3 separate regions of the Homo sapiens genome follow, and all the other regions are reported to be linked to region 1. The links are microRNA targets in miRTarBase. Many come from high-throughput screens and were not tested one by one. Region 1 holds a microRNA gene; each other region holds the end of a gene's coding sequence.
The links. The annotated mature microRNA hsa-miR-505-5p reads GGGAGCCAGGAAGUAUUGAUGU and lies in region 1 at 4,688-4,709, shown strand. An mRNA with a match to its seed (bases 2 to 7 or 8) in the 3' UTR can be bound and repressed. Matches are read on the target gene's strand: a 7mer-m8 pairs with bases 2 to 8, a 7mer-A1 pairs with bases 2 to 7 and ends in A, and an 8mer does both.

Region 1 (7,118 bases):
AATAAGAGATTTCTTGATAAAGTAGGTTGGGGGCTTGGTCAAGAGGATGCTGTCAGTTTAGCTTGTCAGTGATAGTTAACAGGTATGCATTTCTAGACCTTTGATACATGAAAGCTTAATTGTGAGTGTGAAATACTGGAGTACATTTAAATCTCTGATTCTAGAAGCCCTTAAACTGCTTTGGTTTCATAAAGCATGTAGCATATAATCATAATATCACACAGAAGATGCCCAGGACTAGGAAGAAATTAGACTGCATAAGGAAGAATGGAAATTTAAAATAAGACTAAAAAATACAAAATAAGAATTAATGAAATAGGTAGCTAATTTATTGCTTTGAGTCCAAGGCAAGGCTAGTCTAATGAAGCAATATATGGAGGCAATTAAGAAAATAGTTCAGGTAATTGCTTTGTTTTTTCCCCAGGAGCAAGAAGGTTTTTAGTTTCCCCTTTAAACTATCAGAGTAATTAAACATTTTTTTTTTTCTGTTTCACTTTACTAATAATCCTGGCCTGACATTGACGAGCGGGAAAATATTGATTTTATTTTACTGTGTTTAGAAATATATCTGTATGTATGTATTGCAATATTTTTACATTTGCACAACTATTACAAATGGTCTGTGTATCTCGGCTCCCACATGGCTGTTCATAGAGGTCTAGGTTTAGCAGTTGAACTTGACCATACTTAAAAGCAACTTTTTTTTTTTAAATCATATTGTGTTATAATTGCCTTTTAACTTGTATGGCTCCCTAGTCTTTCTCAACATGGAGAGAATTGGCACTGATGCCCTAGGACATGCATTGTTAGTAATAAATTAACATTTTCCTGCGCAGCTGGAGTGAAGGAACCCTAATTGAGAAAGGCTGTCCTAGACAGGGACAGTTCACAGTGTGTTCTTAGCTCCTAGCACAGTGCCTGGTCCCTAGTAGGTGTTCAGTAAAATATTTTTTGAAAGAACAACTTTTGTATGTATCCCATAAATAATAACCTTTACTTACAGATAGTGATTATTGTAAACCCGCTCTTATGCAGAATGAGCAAAGAATGAGTTCTTGTTAGTTGGGGTATACCGTATACATTACTAGTATTCTAAGAATTAGAATAAATACATCTAATGCCGAAAGCTATACTGACCATAGTATAATCTTTTTTTTTTTCCTTTTTTTTGAGATTTATTATGGGAATTGGATCATGCAGTTACAGAGGCTGAGAAGTCCCAGGATCTGCCATCTGCATGAGCCCGGCCACAAAATATCCCCTTCTTTTATTTATTTTTATTTTTATTGTTATTTTTTTTGAGACAGAGTCTTACTCTTGTCATCCAGGCTGGAGTGCAATGGCACGATCTTGGCTCACTGCAACCTCCGCCTCACGAGTTCAAGCGATTCTCCTGCCTCAGCCCCCCTAGTAGCTGGGATTACAGGCGCCTGCCACCACGCCTGGCTAATTTTTTGTATTTTTTAGTAGAAACGGGGTTTCACCATGTTGGCCAGGCTAGTCTCGAGCTCTTGACCTCAGGCGATTTCCCTACCTCGGCCTCCCAAAGTGCTGGAATTACAGGCAAGAGCCAGCATGCCTGGCCTCTTTCTTAGATGATTAAGGCATTGTATGGTTTTGCAGAGCAATTATCATTCAGCAAATATTCACTGAGCACCTACTATGTGCTGGGCACTGCAGTCAATCCTGGGGTCGTAGATGAGCAAGACAGACAAGGTTCCTGTCTTCCTGAGCTGTAATTATCATTACATACACAACTATAGATATAGAGGGCATGGTAACTGCATTGCATTGAATACATTTGTGACATACCATGAAATTTGATCTTTGTGAATAAGTTACTATTACATACTTGTCATTTTTCTTTCTACTAAAAATAGATTGTACAATATCAGTTATTTTCTGGTTGTTTGGATGTCAGTTAAAAAGGAGTTTCTTGCATTTGTCTCCTTTCATCTGACCTACGCATGGCAAACTGCTCTTTTGCAAATAGATGCTAGGCTGACCCCACGCAAGGTGGGAAACTTATTTAGAAATGAACCACTGTAACTTGAAATAAATCTTTACACAAGTGAAAGCAGGTTTTGTCTTCTTTTTTCCTGATCTACCTTTTAGTGACTAAGCAACATAAAACTCTGAATGTGTCCTGAATACTTTCTGTAAGTGTTTACTGTTTGTTCCTTTTGTTTATGCTTATTGCTAATAATTCAGCCATTTAGTGAGTAATATTGAGTGCCTATATACCAGGTAGTTTCCAGTGTTCCTAATTAACTTTTAGCTGAATTGAGATTTGGGCAGGTGAAGCTGGCCATTTTTATATTGATGCAACTGTTCAAAAGAGCTTGTTTTTTCAAAAAGCTGCCAGTTTACCACCTGCTGAGCAGTGGGTTCTAGGAGGTAAAGGATGGCCAGTGGCCCCTGAAAGAACCATAACTAACCTTGCTGTGTCTGCATGATGTGCAAAGAACTAGCCCACTGAGTGAAATCAAATACTGGTTTGTTGAGTGATGGAAAAAATCAAGGCTCATTGCTTGTCTAACATGGTTATTCAGTTCTCTCAAAGAGGGTGAATGCATGGGATATAAAAAAAAAATACTATTTTTTTCTTCAAGGTGGTGGAATTTCCTGTACATCTGTAGTGCTTTATACAGATGAACCTTTTACATCTGGAACCCTCGAGACTGGGGGAGTTTTTCTGGTTAGGTGGAGGGAGGTTCTGGGCTTCCACAAATGAATTAGGTGCTGGCTCTCGAGTTTATTTCCTTTCACTTAACATTTACCTTCTTGGCCTGGTATAAGGGTAGATTAGCGGTGATCGTAAAACAAAACATACTGGCACAACTGCAGCATATGTTAACACTGCTGCAGCTTAATGATGAATGAGTGCTCAGCACTGCAGATATGGGCACAGGATGCCCTATGCCCACACATTGGCAGACAGCCCCTCAATTATTGCAGTGTATGGACGGATTACTGGGTCGGCTGACTTCTTGATAATAGAAGATGTGATTTATAAATGATAATGGACCGTGGATTTCCAGATTTAGAAGGTTAACCTGTATTTGTGAAGTAGAAATCATTGATTTCTTGTGCCATATGTATTTAATGGAATATGGGAGGATTGGTGATGTTGATGATATTGCTGTTCAAGCAGATATCATCATTTGTTTTTTAGACGTCTCTATTATATGTTGTCATAAAGTATTAATGTGGCAATGTTTTCCTAGTCCCTTTCTCTTTACCAAGGTATTCTTGGAAAAATCAGAAGTGTTCTTGAAAATGATCTTGCAGTTAGCACAGCATCAGGTAAACAGTAGATGTTCAATTAATACTTGTTTAATTGTTTTGAGCTGAATTGGTAACACAGTCTGAGTCAGTAATAACAGATGAAGAATGATCAGTTTAGGAAGCAGCCACCAAGAAGCTTATGCATTTCAGACTGGGCTACAAAATTAGCCAGGAGTGGTAGCACAGGCCTGTAATCCCAGCTACTTGAGAGGCTGAGGCGGGAGAATCACTTGAACCTGGGAGGCAGAGGTTGCACTGAGCCGAGATCGTGCCATTGCACTCCAGCCTGGGCAACAAGAGCAAAACTCCATCTCAAATAATAATAATCCTGTATGCTTACTATAAATACAGATTCCTGGGCCTTGAACTTACTGAATCCAAGTCTTGGGTGACAGACTCCAAGAAACTGTTTTTAACAAGCATTCCAAGTGGTTCTTAGGTTCACTAAAATTTGAGAACAGCAATATATAATATAGTAAACACGGAAATATTTATTTTCTGGGCACACTCTCTGTTCACCTTTTTGAACTTCAGTTTCTTCATCGATAGAATGGGAATAATAATACCTATTTCACAAGACTGTTGAAAAAAACGTTTGGTAGACTATTCAACACTATACCAATTGTGACAGAGGTCCTCAAAACCGGCCTAGGTTTGTTGATTCACTGGCAGAACTCAGTACATAGAAACGCTTGCGGATGTGATTTATTATAGCAAAAGGATACAGAGCAAAGTCAGTAACGGGAAAAGGCTCATTGGGGCCAAGTCTGGAGGAAACCATGTGCAAGCTTCCAGTCCTCTTTCACTGAAATCACACAGGTCATGCTTAATTCCTCTAGCAAATGAGTTTTGACAACTTGTGTGAAATGTCTACTAGGGAAGCTTATTAGAGATTCAGTACCCAGGGTTTTTAGTGGGAGCTGGTCACACAGGCACCCTCCACCTGGTACACAGCAAAATTCCAGACCCCAAGGAGGAAAGCAGGTATTCAGTGTAAACCCTATTGTTTACACAGCTTAAGCAGAGTGAGCCACTCTTATCAGGGTGATGGAAACCCTCCCAAAATCCAAGTCCCCAGACACCAGCCAAGGACCAACCTTGCAAACAGGCCTTACTAAGAATAGCAGTGTCAGGCCTGCTATGTTAACTCTTTCCATCACGCAAATATTGTGAAACACTGGTATTTTTTCAGTGAAAGGAAATGACTTGTCCAAGATCATTAAGCTAATCAGCAGTACAGCTGAGACAGACTCCCAGCAATCACATCTTTTCTTTGCTGCCCATAGCCATGCTTCTAGATTATGGGTCATTCCTTTTCATACTGTCATTGAAAGCACTTACTGTTTGTCACTTGAAGCAGAAGAGCAGCCTGCCGGTGGTAAATTGATGCACCCAGTGGGGGAGCCAGGAAGTATTGATGTTTCTGCCAGTTTAGCGTCAACACTTGCTGGTTTCCTCTCTGGAGCATCGCCAAGTTCGTGGATTTTCATTTTTCCTGACTTTTGGACTTTTGTTACTGCTCCCATTCATTTGCTCATAGTCCTAATACTCATTTGCATCATCACTTCATCCCATTCTATACCTTTTGGGTAACACAATTTCCAAATGGTGGGAATACTGCAGTATTTTGTCAAAGAAGACTATATAGGAAAAAAAAAATTCTGAGCAATGAATTTTATGGCAATATTTACAAATATTGGTTTATATCCTGGATTGTCTTTTGAGTTTTATAGTCATGGAAAACCCTAGGGATATCTCTGGTTATTTGGAGTTTCAGCCATTTTTACTGTTATAAAGGAAAATTAACAAATTTGTTATGATTGGAGCAAGGAATAAGGAAATCATACTGGATGGTGCAGTAATCCCACATATCGACAGGGAGTAGAAGCCAGGAGGGAATTGCCACAAGTAAGTAACAGCTGGGTAGAGCAGATTATGTAAGCTACACCTGTTGTGTAAGCAGTGGGGACGTTCTTTAAGCTTCACAATTAATGTATTTTGCAGTAATAAGGATTAAGGGATCTATAGTATAGTGTACAATTTATTCTGGCTTCTTTTCTGAAAACATTCATGTGAATCACAGCTTTCTTGGAACACTCATCCCCTATTTGGTGCTGTAGAGGTGTGTAAGGTACAGCCCTGCTCACCAGTAGCCTGCAGTTTGGTAGAAGAGAGAGAAGACCAGCACACAGGACCATCCTCCACACAAGGCCAGTAGGTCACCAGAGCCATCCTTTTGAAGGACATACACAGTAAGTGCAGTAGGCATTCAGAAGGAGGCACTGGCTCTCTGGCTTCATTTCTTGGGGAGAGCTTTATGGAGGAAGTAGCCTGTCAACTGGGCCTCTGGGGACCCAAAGGGCTGAAGGTTCTGAGATTTTAGGGATGGGCAGTCTCATTACAGGAGGAGGCAATTACCTGAGCAATGGTGCAGGGTCATTGTTGTACTTAAAGCATGGGAACCAGTCAATTTAGAGAACATACATGCCAACCCCAAATGAGTTTGAGCTGTTATAAAAAAAAGTATAACAGGTGGGGCTCAGTGGCTCACGCCTGTAATCCCAGCACTTTGGGAGGCTGAGGCAGGTGGATCATTTGAGGTCAGGAGTTCAAAACCAGGCTGGCCAACATGGTGAAACCCCATCTCTACTAAAAACAAAAATTAGCCAGGTGTGATGGAGAGCACCTGTAATCCCAGCTACTCGGGAGGCTGAGGCTGGAGAACTGCTTGAGCCAGGGAGGTGGAGGTTGCAGTGAGCAGAGATGGCACCACTGCACTCCAGCCTGAGTAATAGAGCGAGACTCTGCCTCAAAAAAACAAAACAAAACAAATAAAAAGTATAACATAGATTCAGTGGCTTATGCACAACAGAAATTTATTTCTCACAATCCTGGAACTTGGAAGTCCAAGATCAGGATGCCAGCATGGTTGGGTACTGGTGAGGGGGCTTCACGTCGCAGACTGGTGACTTATTGTATCTTCACATGGCAGAAAAAGAGTGAAATGAGCTCCCTAGGGCACTAATCCCATTTATGAGGGCTCCACCTTCATGGCCTGATCACCTGTCAGATGCCTCACCTCCTAGTACTGTCACCTTGGAAGTTAGGATTTCCACATAAGAATTTTAGGGGAACACAAACATCCTGTCCATGACACAGCAGAAACACCAAAACCTCGATCTTCAATGCCTTACGTTTGCTGTAGTAATTTTGATTTTAAAAAAGGAGATGCTAAAAACAGGTGGCTTTAGGTCTCCACAACAATAGCTATAGGAATCTTCCCATACATAGATGCTCTTTTCTGAAACCTATGACTCCAGTAAATTTATGTCATTTAAAAAAAATGCATATATATATATATATATATATATATATATATATATATATATATATTTAGAGAAGGAGAGAGAGAGAGAGACAGTCTTGCTCTGTTGCCCAGGCTGGAGTGCAGTGGCACAATCTCGGCTCACTGCAACCTCTGCCTCCTGGGTTCAAGTGATTCTCCTGCCTCAGCCTCCTGAGTAGCTGAGACTACAGGCGTGTGCCACCACACCTGGCTAATTTTTGTATTTTTAGGAGAGACAGGGTTTCACCATGTTGGCCAGGCTGGTCTTGAACTCCTGACCTCAAGTGATCCACCTGACTCAGCCTCCCAAAGTGCTGGGATTACTGGCGTGAGCTGCCATGCCCGGCCTTATTTGGTGCAGAGACAGTAAGGCAGAGACCAGGATGAAATATATATTTGGGGTAATATATCATGACACTACTTCATATATTATTATAGGACTGCTTACTTAGTTACCCTGCTTAAATTATGGGTACACATTTCT
Region 2 (7,118 bases), not on the chromosome of region 1:
CCCAGGCAAAAGGGGAAAAGACACACAGAGAACAACAGAAAACAGTTGGAAACCCCAAAGGGCGCTTGATGAAGAGCTGGAGCTCCCCGCCCCCCGTGCTCCGGGAGGACCAGGAGACCTGCTCCATGGGCCAAACCGCCTTTGCCCATCCCTCCCCTGACCCCTGCTGCACGGTTCCAAGGGCTTGGTAGGGCAGCCTGAATTTTCCCTAACTCCCACTCCTAGGAAGGTCAAATTCACCTTGTTTGCCTCCTTAAAAATTCACAAATGCAGGACTGAGGCTTTTCCTGAAACCAGAGCCCCGGCAGCCAAGGCTCAATAAAATACTGTTTGTGTTTCCAGGCACTGGGGTGGGAGCGAGGCTCCCAGTTGCTCAGAGTTAACCGGCCCTTTCCCGAGTGAGACCCCGCGAGCACTCGTCAATTCTCCCATCACCCTCCATCGCCGCCTGCTGGGGGGGCCTGAGGTCCGGAGCTGCTCTTCCTCCTGGCAGCCCAGCCTGCAGGCCTAGTGCTGTCCAACCACAGCCCAGAGGGCAAGGCCTCCCAAAGTGGGCGCTTGCTGAGCCCCTGGCCAGCCTCCCAGGACCCTCAGTCCCCACAGCCCCCATCCAGCTCTCTTTTACACCTTCCCCTCCCCCATCTCAGAACATGGGAGAAGCCGGGCACACTGGCGTCTGCAGGCTGCCCTTGGGCTGCCACGGGGCCCTGTTTGCCCAGCACAGAGCCTGCCGTGCTTTGACCCAGCAAGTCCCACCGCACCTTCCAGAGGCACTGTACAGCGTGCATCTGTTGTCAGTACAGTTTTATTTGCTGTGGAATCCATGAGAGCCGGAAGCATCGTTGGGGCCGTGGCTAGCAGAGCTCATGGTGACCAGTCCTGGGCCTGACCAATGGGTGATTACATTTAAAAACCAAAACAAAACAAAACAAAATACCAAGAACAGATCACTTGCCATGGACATCAGTAATCTATTGGTAATGGTGGAAATTTCATGAAAATTTCCCCTAAACCATAACAAAAACTGTCCTCCTTACCCCAAAAGTGCTGGAGGAAAGATGGTTGCATGACTTGACCTCTCTTTGAACTTGAAATGCTACCTTCCTACCCGGAAATGCGACACACTATACTTAAAAGGCCAGATGGCTGCAGGCTGTTTGCACCCCTGGCTCTGCCCAGGGACACCCCTCTCCTGGTTCTAATGCTCAGACCCAGGAGGCAGAGTCCGCAGCCCGAGGGAGCTTCAAGGCCGAGGGGTAGGACCTGCAGGGCCCACACCACCCTTCTGATGGAGAGCTTTGCACATGCATTCACACACACATGCCTGGCGGGATCGCAGAGGATGGGTCTCGTGGCAGGAGTGGGCAGAATGGGGTGCATTTTACAGAAGAGTCACAGAGAGGCTCGCCCTCGGCGGAGGACACACAGCTGGGTGGGCGTGTGGGAGTGCAGGTGTGCTGACTCCGAACCAAGGGAGAGCTCTCCGTCCTGAGCTCGCTGCCCCTCACGATGCACACGGCTGATGGCTGAGGTCAGCGGTCTCTTCCCTGAGTGGCAGGTGTGGTCCCTGGGACTTCATAAACCATCCTCATGACAGTTTTACACTTAGAGTCCCCAATGCACTCCCAGGAGGTGGCCTGGGCAGGCAGGCATCATTATTCTCATGTTACAGGTGAGGAAACTGAGGCTGAAGGAGGCAGAAGGCCACATACCCGGGGAGAATCGCAGGCAGCAGGGGCCAGGCCCCTTCCACAGCACTGCCTCTCACCCTTCTCCCGACCAACCCCCAAGGGCATGCCTCTGGCTTCATGAACCTTCGGGGGAAATTAGCTTTCTAGTTTGGGGGCGGTTCCCTCTGACTGGAGACAGGACAGAATGCTTTCACACCCAGGAACGGCCGTGCAGCCTGGCTTAGAAACAAGGGACGAAGTGGATCCTGAGGCTCATTCCCTGGGGACTCCAAGAATGGGGCAGGCCCAGCTGCGCAGCCAGTCCTGGCTCCACTGACTTAGGCTGCACCCCTGCACATATGTGTGTGTGTGTGTGCATGCGTGCGTGTGTGCATGTGCGTGTGTGTGTGTGTGTGTGTGTGTGTGTGTGCGCATTTTCCCAGGGGACCTCTCCTCCTTCCTCTGAGGCAAAGTGGCCTGCAGGGGCCCCTGCAGAGCATACAGGGAGGTGCTTCCTTCCCTCTGCCCAGCGAGCAAAGGGTGGAGCCTTGGCACCCCCAGCAACCCCCTCCAAGGGTGGAGCCTTGGCACCCCCAGCCCCCACCCCGCAAGGGAAAGGGGAAGCTGCACGAGGAGCAAGATTTCATTCCCCAGAGGGCACAGCTTGGGCAGATTCCCATCATCTAGGGGCTGTGCCCCACATCTATTTCTGCCAAACAAGAAGCAGACGAGGGGGCTCAGGGGGGCGGGCCTCACAGGAACGGAAGCACCACCCCACCTCTATTCCCTGTGGCCTCCAAAAGAGCTGGGCAACCTCTGCCAGCCACTACCCCTTAGCCCAAGGGGAGTCCTCATTCCAGAGCCAGCATCTTCATCTTGTCCTGATGCCCTGCCCACCCCCGCCGAGCTTCACACTGGGCTGCTATGGAAAACTGAAAGGTCAGAGGGTGGAGGTCCTCTCCCTCCTGGACATGGAAACCTCCCCCTGCCTGGCACTTCGGCTGGTCAGGAACAGTGGCTGCTCATGGAGCTGCCCTCCCACCTTCAGACCCTCCTCCTCCCCCGCAGGGGTGGGCTGGGGCCCTCCCTCCCTCTGTACTTGATCCATGACTTGTGAGTTCTGAGTCCTCAGGGCCGAGACTTGAGTCAGAACCTTCTGGAGCAGTACGCATTTCCCCTCTGCACCTGGTGAGGACACCAGGCTCCTCGCTTCCTCCCCAGATCTCTGAGTGCTCACCCGACCCCCCAACCCTGGCGGGACCTTCCAGGGCTGGCAAGCATCGAGCCTGACCACGTTGCCTCTTGGGTGCCAGCACGCCCACATCAAAGGTGTCCCCTCTTCCCAGAGGCCCTGAGCAACATCGGGCGACGCTGTCAGCAGACATTAGCAGCAGAGCTGCACCACGCATCAACTTTTAAGTATGCGCACACACGTACGCCAGCCAATAACATTAAGTGTCATTTTAAAAAATGGGTTAAATAAGCAGCATTGCTGAGGATGGCCGTGCAGGGCTGATTATCCCCTATTTGCACGTTCTGGCGGTGGGAAGGCTAGAAGTCTAATGACTGAATTATCGCCCTAATGCCTCTCGCTGGCTGGGAATAATCCCGGGGCAACAGCTGCCGCGGGGTTTTTGGCTGGTTTCCTCTAATTGCATCCAGATTAAGGGAGTTGTGGAGGGGCGGGGCTTCTCCATCCCCCGCGGAGCAGCGTCTCCTCCGCCAAGCCCTGAACACCCAGCTCATGGCTTCCGAGGTCCTGGCTGGTCCGAGAGGTGCAGACCTCACTGGGGTCCGGGCCAGCCCATGGGGAGCGTGAGGTGCGAGCAGTGCACGGTGGGGGTGGCACTTGGTGCAGAGATGCAGCTGATTGGTCCGGGTCAGGTCTTGGGGAGCAGCAGGGGTGAGAAGCTGTAGGGCCAGGAGACTCAGAAGGAATGCCTTCTACTAGGACCTTCCCAAGTGAGGGGAGCCCTGGACCTGTCTATCCTCTTCCTCCCTCCCAAACACAGCGGTTCAAAGGCACGAGGTATCTAGTGAAATGCTAGGACCAGGGACGCTATTCCCCTGGAGCAGGCGGGTGGGGAAGGAGTGCTCCAAAGCAGGCATTATTAGGACACAGACTCTCCAGAGTCCCAGTTGTTTAGCCCTCCAAATTCTCAGCCTACTGCCACCCGACTGTGCAGAGCGGACAATAAAGTGGCAGGCCTGTCCCCCACCCCTTAATGCTGAGCCCAGCCACGTGACTTGCTGTGGCCAAGGGGAGAGCTGCAGGTGTGGTGTCCACCAAGGCTTGGAAAGGCACTTGCTGTCTCTCCCTCCGTGCCTTTGGCTGTGCCATGGCTGGCCTGCAGGAGGGATGCAAGAGACCACAGAGCAGGGCCAGGTCCGACCTCTGCACCATGAGCATCCCCTGGGACTTAACAACCCACTGGCCCTAAACAAACAAGCCCAGCCTAGACCAGAAGAATCACCCTGCCCAGACTGCTGACTCCTGCCCTAGATCAGTGCTGACTGTTGCAGGCCACCGAGTGTTGGCGGATTTGTTACACAGTATTGCTGTGGCAATGGATATAACTGGTTTCTAGCGGAGGGTCAGGGCAGAAGCTCCAGCCACCTCCCTAGCCCAGAAAGGCAACCCTCTCTTCCCAGAAGCAACATGGATGAGAAGCCCACCCCATTCCCACCACAGGATCCCCCACTGCTAGACAGCAATGGTCGGTACCCCAGGATCTGGGCACTGATGGGGCTCCAGGACGGTCTCCTCAAAAGGCTCTTAGGCAGACAGACCTGGGAACTTGGAAGTACCTGCTGGACGACCTGGGTTCATGGAGAAAAGAGAAGCCGAGAAGGTGGAGGAGGCCGGTAAGTGGTGACCTCCGCTTTCCTGCTGAGGAACACTGCTTTGAAGTGGCATGGCCCAGCAGTGCCCACCCTCCAGGGAGAAAAGCTTTGAGTGGGAAGAAGCCTTCTATCCTGGTCCCCATGATGGTTCTCAGCACATCAAGGGTTTTTCTCCCCAGAAGGACGCGATGGAGGATTTCAGGAGGGATTTGGTCTCCTCGCTCAAGGAGTGGCTTTCTGTGCAAATGGCTCGACACTTCTAAGCTGGCTGGGAGTTCTCACAGCATAGATCGCACACCCTTTTCTGTCCATCTCTAAATCCCAGAAGGAGCAACTGATACACAATCTTTTGGAAGAGGGAGAGTCTGTTGGGAAGACCTCATTCCCACATAGAAGGCAGAGAGCCCTGAGTGCTGGCTCCTTCACTGTGGTCGCTCTCACGTCCGACCACCTGAGAAGCTGACTTACATATCTGAGTTCACAGGTCCTGAAGGGAAGTGGAAGAGTCTAACTATTTCCAGGTGTCCTTGTCTTGGTTGGTCAGCTAATACACTACCACGTCCCTGGGACAAAGCAGATCATTGTCAGAGGATCTTGCAAACACAAACACGCACGCACGTGTGCATGCATGCATGCACGCAGGGACACACGCACACATCGACCCATTCAAGCCCCAGCTGGTTGCTGTATTTGGTGGAGTTGACCTTAAACAACGCCAAGGAACCTCACGTAGAAGACCCCCAGCAAAGAAAAAGGCATCAGATGCTTCTCCAACAGCCTGAGGCTCAGGCTCCTGGGCAGACAGTTCCCTTCGTGTACCAGGAGGACGAAATGTTTAAACGGATAAACATTACAAGCGCCAGCTCCTCAAGCCTGACTGCTCTTCCGCCTCTCTATCCCCACATCGGTTGGGCTTTTTATCTTTTGCTTTTCTTTTATGGCAGATGCCTTTCCATCGGCATCCCAGCTGTGGCTGGGGACGTTTTGGGAAGTGTGTTTGGCTCACTCCGAGAGAACGAGGTCTCAAGAGGAAGTGTGTCTGGCTTGCAAAGATGTCCCTGGGCCTGGACAGGACCCCGCTGTGTTCTGCAGCCCTCGACGCAGTGGGTGAGTGAGGCCTTCCTCTCCTGTCTCTGCTTTCCTCATTGCCTGGCGACGCTGTCTGGCTGCCCTCGAGGGTGGAGCAAATCCTGGGACATGTTGAAATCCTCCAGGGCAGCCAGCAGGAGAGCCCAGCCAGCCTGCGTCTCAGGTGCGGTGGCTGCGCGTTCCACTGCAGCGTTTCAGGAGCTGACTTTCCTCTGGGTGGCTGTAGATCTGACTTCTGTCACTTCCAGACTCTAATTTTGTCATTAATATGAAAAGGTTCCTCTCATGTTGCCCAAAAGCATTTTCCTTAGGTTTCTACCGTCCCCTGTCCCCTTCACGCCCAGCCCCACCCCCTCCCGTGCCCAGGGCCTCTGAGGAGGTCCCCTCAACCCCTGTCCGGTGTCGGGGGCCCGACCTATCTGCGGAAGCCGAAGCCGTCCTGCGGCGTCTTTGGGCCCTTCTTGCCTTCCCTCAGGGACTTGGGGGAAGGCATCTCCACCGTGCCCCCGTAGGGACAGCTCTCCGAGCCGGGATGGTGGCCGGTGCACTCCACCGCGGGCATGGAGCCGCTGTCCCACATGCCTGACCCGCACAGCTTACACAGATCGTGCAGGCTGCAGGGGATCCGGGGCAGGAGGCGGAACTGGTACAGCAAACTCCTCGCCTGCAGACAGAGGACGGGGGGTGAGGAGGGGCCGGGGGACAGCCTGGCAGCCTAGGGTCCCCATGGGAGTGGCCAAAGACAGCAACAGCAGCAACAACGGCCTGCACCTCGGGGGCTCACCGAGTCCTGGACTGAGGGCTCTGCCTGCATCTCCCACCATCACCGGCACCACGGGGCCCTGGGTCTTAGGTGGCTGCAGTGATGGGACCCACAAGGCACTCGGGCTGTGCTCACAGGTGGCTCGAGGTGAACAAGGCCCTTGAATGGGCTTCATTCAGGAGGGTGAACAGGACCAACACCAGCACAGGGCCGGGTGGCGTCCAGCCAAGCCCACCTGTCCCTTTGGCAGCACCCCTCTCTTCTTCCCCCGCACCTTGCTCCACCCCCCACCCCCAGCAGCCTCTCAGCTCCTGCAGGATCTGTGTCCTGTGCCAGAGGACACCACCGACCTCGGGACCCCCGCTCAGTGCCCTGAGGACCACCAGAGAGCTAACGGGCAGCATCTCCAGGAGGCGTCTGGGAAGTGGGGGAGGGGGCCAAAGCCCAAGGTCCCCAGTATTCTGGCCACCCTGTCCCCAGGTCCAGCCTCCTTCTCAGTGTTCCCAGTTCTGGGTTGTAAGCGAGGTACCCCAGGGTAGGGAACCTGTCCTGTCCGTCAGCCCCGGTGAATTCGTTCCCTCCTCAGCCAGCGAGGGAGGCTCCTGTGTCAGGGCTGGCACCCCAGGAAAGTGAGGTGACACAGCCAGGCCGAGACAGGTGCTGACCACGAGGCCTTAGTGGGGAGCCCCCAGTGCTATGGGTGGGGGAGGGCACGTGCTGGGGGGCCATGGTGGGGATGGGGCTCTGGGGGC
Region 3 (7,118 bases), not on the chromosome of region 1:
TCCTACTTCCTTACTTCCTACTAAAACTACTGGACAGCCACCGAACCTCTCTGGACCTGTTTCCTGCCTCTAGAAAAAGAGAGGTAGTGCTCTGCAGGGCCACGGGAGGACTCAGTGACGACTTGAAAGCATCAAACACAGTGGAGGGCTCATACAGGGTGCTCAGTAGATGGGCGCATCATTTTATAGAATACTGAGGCCCAGAGAGGGAAGGTGTCTTGTCTGTGGTCGCATGGGGGCTCAGTGGGAAAGCCGGGACTAAAAGCTGGCCCCAGGCTAGCTTTGTGCCAGGCCATCCTGCTCTTACACAGGGGCTGAGAACCAGGGGCAGCCCAGGAGTCCTGGATGGGGCAGCAGTCATGTTGGATGGGGCTGGGGTGTTGGCTCTCCCTTTCTGGGCTCTCAGGAGTGGTCAGGGCTAGCCCCAGATCTCCCAGACCAAGAAGAGGAGCAGCCTGTGGGGAGACACTCATGCCCTGACATGAGTCAGTGCATCAAGAGAGGCCATCAGCCAGTGGGATTCAGCAAGCATGCCTGGCGCTGCCTGGTAGGGTGCTGCCCATGGGAGGAAGAGAAGAGGAGCTGCCACCCATTTGGGGCCCTCCTTCTCTGGGTCCTCAGATTTGCCCTTCAGCCCAGAGTGTAAGTTCCACAGGGCCCCATTCATGGAGGCCTTGCCCATGCCCTCCATGCATTTCAGATACCCCTTTCTCAGGCTGTCACCTCCCACTGCTTTGCCTTTCAGCTATGAAGACCCCGCGGCCCTGGATGGTGGGGAGGAGGGCATGGACATCATTACCCACATTCTGGCCTTGGCACCCCGGCTCCTGAAAGACTCTGGGTATGAATGGGATGGGTCTCCTAGGTCTGTCCCCAGCAGGCTCCTCTGCTCCTAATGTGTACTGGGCAGGCCCTGGCAGAGGTCAGCACAGGACCCTCACCTCGCCAGCCCAAGCAGCCCAGAAGGGCAGGCGCCAGACCTGTCCTGCTGAGCCCACCCATTTCTCCCCCATGTAGTAGTATCTTCTTAGAAGTGGACCCAAGGCACCCGGAGCTTGTCAGCAGCTGGCTTCAGAGCCGGCCTGACCTGTACCTTAATCTTGTGGCTGTGCGCAGGGACTTCTGTGGGAGGTAAGATCCTAGCCCCCTTTAGCCCTGTAGCATGCTGGTCTTTCCACTGGGGCCATCCTCAGCCCTGGCTGTCAGGAGAGTGTGCTGTTCCCACTTCCTGTTCATTCCCTGAGGCCCAGGTGGTAACCAGCCCCTGTCCCTGTCTCCTCAGGCCCCGGTTCCTGCATATCCGGAGGTCTGGGCCATAGCATGGCTGCCCTGTGGATGCCTTGTCAGTGCCGCCAGCCTGACCAGAGGGGAGGTGGATGGCACTTTCCAGAGCCCAGGTTCTTATGGCATTTCCCAGGGTTCTGTGATTTCCCCATGCTCTGCATTTCTAGGATATTTCTAGGACACCTGGATTGGCTCCATCACATCAGAGTGGCTGAGGGCAGTTGCTCTGTGTTGGTGAAATTGCTGTGGGGGTATCGGGGGATATGGCCAGTAAAGTATTGAGAGACTAACAAATGGTGACCTAATGTTTTGTCCATGACTTGCAGGTCCCCTGACCCCCTTACTCCCAGGTAGCACTGGGGCAAGGGTTTCCTTCTGCCCCAGCAGGGCTGGCCGTCAGTCCCCTGCTTGGTAGTGGTGTGGGGGTGCAGTGTGGAGGAAGGCACGTGAGTCCTCACTCCTGGCCTTGGATACCATGGGTCCTGGCATAGAGCAGCTCACTCCCAGGGATTGATTAGTCCTCCACTGCCCTGGGTGCATGCGTACACAATTCCCTGGCCAAGCCTGGCTCGAGCACAGGAAGCTCATCTGCGTTTTGGCTCAAGGATGACTGCCTGCTTTCTGGAGGGGAGGGTCTGGAGGTCTTTGCTGCACAGTTCCTGGGTCGCACATCCACGTTCATTTAACTGAAGGCTTGAGCCAGTGAGGGGTGTTTCCTTTTTATCCCCATAGCTTTTAGCTAAAACATCCCTCCCGAGTTGACCCCCTGGGGTTTCAAATAACCCATGTGTCCCTGGTTGGGGCTGGGGAGAGTGAGAAGCTGAGATACTGGGCACAGGGTTGTGGCCTCCACCCCAGCTCTGGTCTGTGCAGACTCATGGCCACCAGGAGGCCTGCAGATCCAGCCTTCCTGTCAACAGCGACAGGAAATCTCTAGGTTGGTGAGTGCTGGTGATGTGAGCCTACATCAGGGTGGGTCCTAAGAAACATGGCAAACCAGGCTGTCTCATTCCACTAGACTGCCCCCTGCCACCCTGGCACTTCCCAGGGCCTGGCAGTATGGTCTGATGGGCAGTATGGTCCAATAGGCAGCATCCTCTGCTGCAGCTGGGAGAGCTGAGTTCCAGGGCTGTGTCCTGCAGTGGGACCTTGGGCAACTCCTTTCCCTATGAGAAGCTGGCTCTTCTGAGTCCAGGGCCAACGCCAACTGGCAACCTCTTTACTCTTAGTCAAGTGGAATGTGCATGCTGGCATCTGAATGTCCATTCGCCAGGCATGGAGAGCAAGAGAAGGTATGTACTGCCTGAGGTCACATGACAGTGACCAAGTGGAGACAGTAAGTTAGATCCCTCCCTTTGGGGAGCCTATATTGCTGGAGTCATACCCAGCCTAAGTGTTGCCCTGCACTATGGCTGGAGGACACATTTGGTAGAGGTCACACTGCAGCTCCCAGTGCCCCAGTGTCCTGCCCTGTGCCCAGCCCCAGCTGCATGGACTCTGAGCTGCCCCTGGCTTCCTTTAAGGAGGCTGCTCCAGAAGGAACCTGGGTGGGGAGGGCGAAGGGGGTGCACAACCAGGGCAAGGCTCCCCACTTCCTTAGTCCCCCATGCTCACAGACCTTTGCCTGCTAAGGTCCTCACCAGTATTGCCCTTTCTGTCTTTCTCCTTGTGCCCTTTGGCTCTTGCTGTCTTCAGCAGCATCTCAGGGTAGCTGCCCTGACCTCGGAGCAGTCTGTCGCCCCCCTACACCTCAGCCAGTCCTGGCTTCCCTGATGGTCTCTCCCTCCTGGCCTCAGGCCCATTCCTGAGGAAGGGCCTTGGCGAGCTTGTGGATGTTGCACCAGAAGAGAGTGCAGTGTTGGAGAGTGACACTGTCGGGGCAGCTGGGGCCACAAGCAGGAGCCGGCCTCGGGCACAACTTTCTGCCCAGAAAAATGTGCAGCTTGACTCTGCTGAGGAAAAGGTCCAAGCCAAGAGGACTGGCAGGCGGGGCCTCAAGCCTGCAGCCACTGGCTTGATTGGGCCCTGGACGTTGAGCCCAGATGTTGGAGCCACACCAGCCTGGATTTCAATCCCAGAATCTGCCCCTCACGAGGATGTGACCTTGGGCAGATGACTTCACCTCACTCAGCCTTGGCTTCTAAGGCTGAGAAATGGGACTTAATGCTTTATTTTATAGGATGCATGTGAGGAGCCCATGGGATGTGCCTGGCTTGGCACATTGTGGCATTTTTCCTTGCCTTCCTCGGAGGGCAGACACAGGGAGGAAGGACCCAGTGCCCTCAGGCGTCCATCTGATGCATGGGACCAACATAAGGCAGGCAGGGATACAAGGCAGTCTGGAAAGAAGGGAAGGCAGGAGTTTCAGTCTTGGGCTCTTGACTCCTCACTGTTGTCTAGAGATGGAGCCAGCAGGCTGGTAGCCTGGCAGCCTACATCTCCCCTCAGCCTCTCCTCACTATGGCCCCAGTGCCTTGAGGCCCAGGCCAGGGCAGCCAGTGGCTCTAGCTCAGGGAAAGCCAGGCCCACCTGCCCTATCCCCTCCCTTGCTCCTGAGGCCAAAGCCAGAGACTCGAACAGCCTCCCCACCACCACCAGCATATGTCAAGGAGCACTTGCAGGCAGAATGGGAGGAGGACATGGAGCTGATGGAGTCCAGGCTGTGCAAGCCCCTGAGGTCTTGAGAGATGTGCCCACTGCCCGTGCAGCCTCCTTCAGCCAGAGCCCAGAGCATAGACAGGAGTGTAGGAGTCCCTGTTTGATGTACTCTGGGAGAGTAATTCTATCTCCTCTTCTGATAGTTGGGGAAACTGAGGCCTTGTCTCACAGTTGGATGCTTTTCCCAGTTGTCAGTGGGTTTCTCCATGGGTCTCATACAGCTGCCTTATTGAAATAGGCCCCGAACCCCCTAAATGCAAAAAATACTCTTTTTTGCTCCTTTACCCCCACCTGGACCCTGGGCTATTGGCTGCTCCCAATCCTTGCCCCAAACACTTAGCTGGCTCCCCATGACTTAAGTGTGTTCTCTTGTGTCCTATGGAATCCAGTTCTGAAGAGGTGGGGGAGGACAACTGTGGGAAAAGCCCTGGGGGCCCCTCCCAAGGCCCCATCAGTGCTCTGAGTAGGCTGTCATCAGAACAAAGGGCTCCACTGCTGACAAGGTTTGAGAACTGCTGGCTTGAGGTGAGAACCCCTTTAACCTCTGCGGGACAGCATGTCTTTCCCTATCCACCTTCGATTCTTTTCTCTTTTTTTTCTTCATTGGCTCCTTCTTAGTGGATTCTCTTCTCTACTGCCCTGGGCTTCAGCCTTTGTGCAGTACTCTCGATGCCCTGAACACACACCTTCCCTTTGCCCAGGCGGTGCAAACAATCCACTTCTTCAAGCTCCAACACAAATGCTGCCTCCTTTAGGATGCCTGCTCTGTGCTCTCCCTGCCTCCCCTAGCCCATACCTCTGCTGGCACCTTCTGTACCATGCCTTCAGAAACCTTCTTATCCCCCTCATCTCTGGGGCCCCCTGTGGATCTGGCATACCCAAGTTCAGTAAATGTCTATCAGTAAGCTGATGGTACATGCATTTTCTAGAATAGAGCTGGGACTTCCCATGTGGCCCACATCTGACCTGGCAGCCCATGTATTCCGGTCATTAGGGATGGGAAGCCATGAGGACCTGGCCTTCTGCCCGACCCAGGCAGCCATTCAAGTTGAGCAATGGCCACTTCGAAGACTCAAGTGCACCTGATCCCTGCGCAACAGCCACACCAGGAGAACAGGCTGTCCTTGGCGGCAGTAGGAGCAGGCGCCAGGTTTCCTGGAGCTCTTGGCTTCAGCCAGCCCCCAGCCAGAGTCCTGGCTAGGACAGTGACCTGATCTCCTCCTCATGACCTTCTGCCCTGGACAAGCCCCCTGAACTGGATTTGGGACTGTCAAAGCAACTCTACCCCTGCTCTGGTAGGCTGAACAGTGACCCCCCAAAATGGCAGTGTCTTAATCACCTAAACCTTAACATGTGACTATATTACCTTCACATAGCAAAATGGACTTTGCAGATGTGATTAAGGATCTTGAGATGGAAGGAGTATCCTGGATTTTTCAGGTAAACTGAGTATAATCACAAGGGCCTCTGTAAAGGAGGCAGGAGTGTCAGAGTGACGGAAGAAAATGTATGTAACAATGGAAGCAGAGGTCAGAGTGATGCAATTGCTGGAGGAAGAGCCATGAGCCGAGGAATGCAGACAGCCTCTTCTCCTCTGGGGCCTCAAGAAGAATGCAGTCCTGCCAATACCTTGATTTTAAGCCCTGTGAAACTGATTTCAGATTGCTGACCTCCAGAACAGTAAGATCATAAATTTGTGTTGTTTTCACATGTGTGAAAACACATGTGTGATAATTTGTTACAGCAGCCACGGGAAACGAATATAGATTGTGGTGCCCAAATTAGAGTGCTGCTGTAACACACGCCTACTGATTGAAGTGGCTTTGGAATTGCAACGTGGAAATGGGCAGAGGCTGGAAGAATTTTGAGAGTCATGATAAATTGCCTTAACCACCTCTCTTCTGATAGGTGATGTGGCCAGGGGAACTCTTCCTCAACCTTCAGACCTAAACTGCCCAGGCCCCCCCTTTTTTTACTCATATTTGGAGAGAGGTGGCCCTTTCCCAGAGTGAGAAGACTGAAAGACTGACCAGCATGGGTCCCAGAAGGGAGTGGGTGAGGAATGGGACTGGGATGTGGGGAGAAAGTGCAAGGCTGGCCTCCATGGCCCATCTCCAGAGACTGGGTCCAGAGAGGACCTCAGAGACTGGGACCAAGCCTGTTCCTGCTCTCCTGTGGAGTTATGTGACTGGCCCAGGACCCCTTGGGTGTGTGAGGATGAGCAGGGGCCCTGTACTCTCTGGGTTGCAGGTACTGCATCTGTGAAATGAGCACAGCAGCCCCTGACTTTGAGCTAATGGGCCTGGCCCCTCCATGTAAGCCATAGGCCTGAGCAGAGCTGTGTCACCATTCTGTTCCTATGGTGGAGTGGGGCTATCCCTGGGGTTCTCAACCTCCTGGTTCCTAAAACTGAATTGGCCAACTGGTGCCCTCAGCCCTGTCCCTGTCCAAGCTGGGACTAGGACCTCCCTTTCCAGGGGTACTAAAGGACTCTGGAGACACCATCCCACCCAGCCAAGGCTTGGGGCTCCTGAAGCCAGTCCTAACCCAGGAGCCACATGGAGAGCTACTGGGAGGCCAGACATGGGCCTCATGCTGGGTTTCAGAGCTGAGAAGCTGGGGGACAGAGAGCATGGACACCTGGGTTCAAGGGTCAGCTTGGCCCCAAATCACCTGGATACGCTTTGGATGAAGCCAGGAGGGCCTGTTTATACTGGAAGGGGTGGATCATGGCAAGACTTATATTCAATCCCTGATCTTTTTTCCCAGAGAGGGATGGGGCTTACTTGAAGTAACACAGCACTTGACTCCTGACTCCCAGTATGATGCTCTCATCTCCTATTGCTTCCAAAGGCCTGGGGTTAGTTAATTAAGTCAATTAGGTGGTGCTCATATGGCTGTCCATGTAGCTACTAAACCCAGGGATTCTGGCCCATAAAGCCCTCTGGGCCAGGTTTATGGGCAGGTAAGAGTCACATTAGGCCAACTGTAGCCCTGGGTGTGCAGACAGATCTGAGTCCCATCTGAAGCTCTGGTAGCTGTGGGAGGAGAGCAGGATTTCCCCCGCTTGCGGAATGAGTGGGTGCCTTCCCCTCTGAGGTAATTGGCTGTACAGCCCCCAGCCTCTGCCCCCCAGGGCCCTCCTGAGGTGTCTGGAAGGACCTTTGGGATCTTTG

Region 2: the mRNA of TBC1D16 is a reported target of hsa-miR-505-5p. Seed matches in the 3' UTR shown: 7mer-A1 at 2,248-2,254 and 7mer-A1 at 2,212-2,218.
Region 3: miRTarBase lists HEMK1 as a target of hsa-miR-505-5p. Seed matches in the 3' UTR shown: 8mer at 1,474-1,481, 7mer-m8 at 4,284-4,290, 7mer-A1 at 4,428-4,434 and 7mer-m8 at 4,547-4,553.

The regions. Positions count from the first base shown.
Region 1 is chrX:139,921,787-139,928,904 of GRCh38, reverse strand. It overlaps MIR505 (microRNA 505), which reads left to right and starts at 4,674; the gene lies at 4,674-4,757. All of the region lies in intron 1 of ATP11C (ATPase phospholipid transporting 11C (ATP11C blood group)), which reads left to right.
Region 2 is chr17:79,934,841-79,941,958 of GRCh38, forward strand. It overlaps TBC1D16 (TBC1 domain family member 16), which reads right to left. Exons shown (of 12, transcript NM_019020.4): 12 at 1-6,267. The coding sequence ends at 6,019. Among named protein-coding and RNA genes, the nearest start is that of LINC01979, 12 kb to the left of the region's middle.
Region 3 is chr3:50,579,099-50,586,216 of GRCh38, forward strand. HEMK1 (HemK methyltransferase 1, mitochondrial release factors N(5)-glutamine) reads left to right here. Exons shown (of 11, transcript NM_016173.5): 9 at 746-841; 10 at 1,018-1,131; 11 at 1,283-7,118. The coding sequence ends at 1,319. Among named protein-coding and RNA genes, the nearest start is that of HEMK1, 13 kb to the left of the region's middle. RefSeq lists enhancers at 2,694-3,195, 3,196-3,695, 5,052-5,570.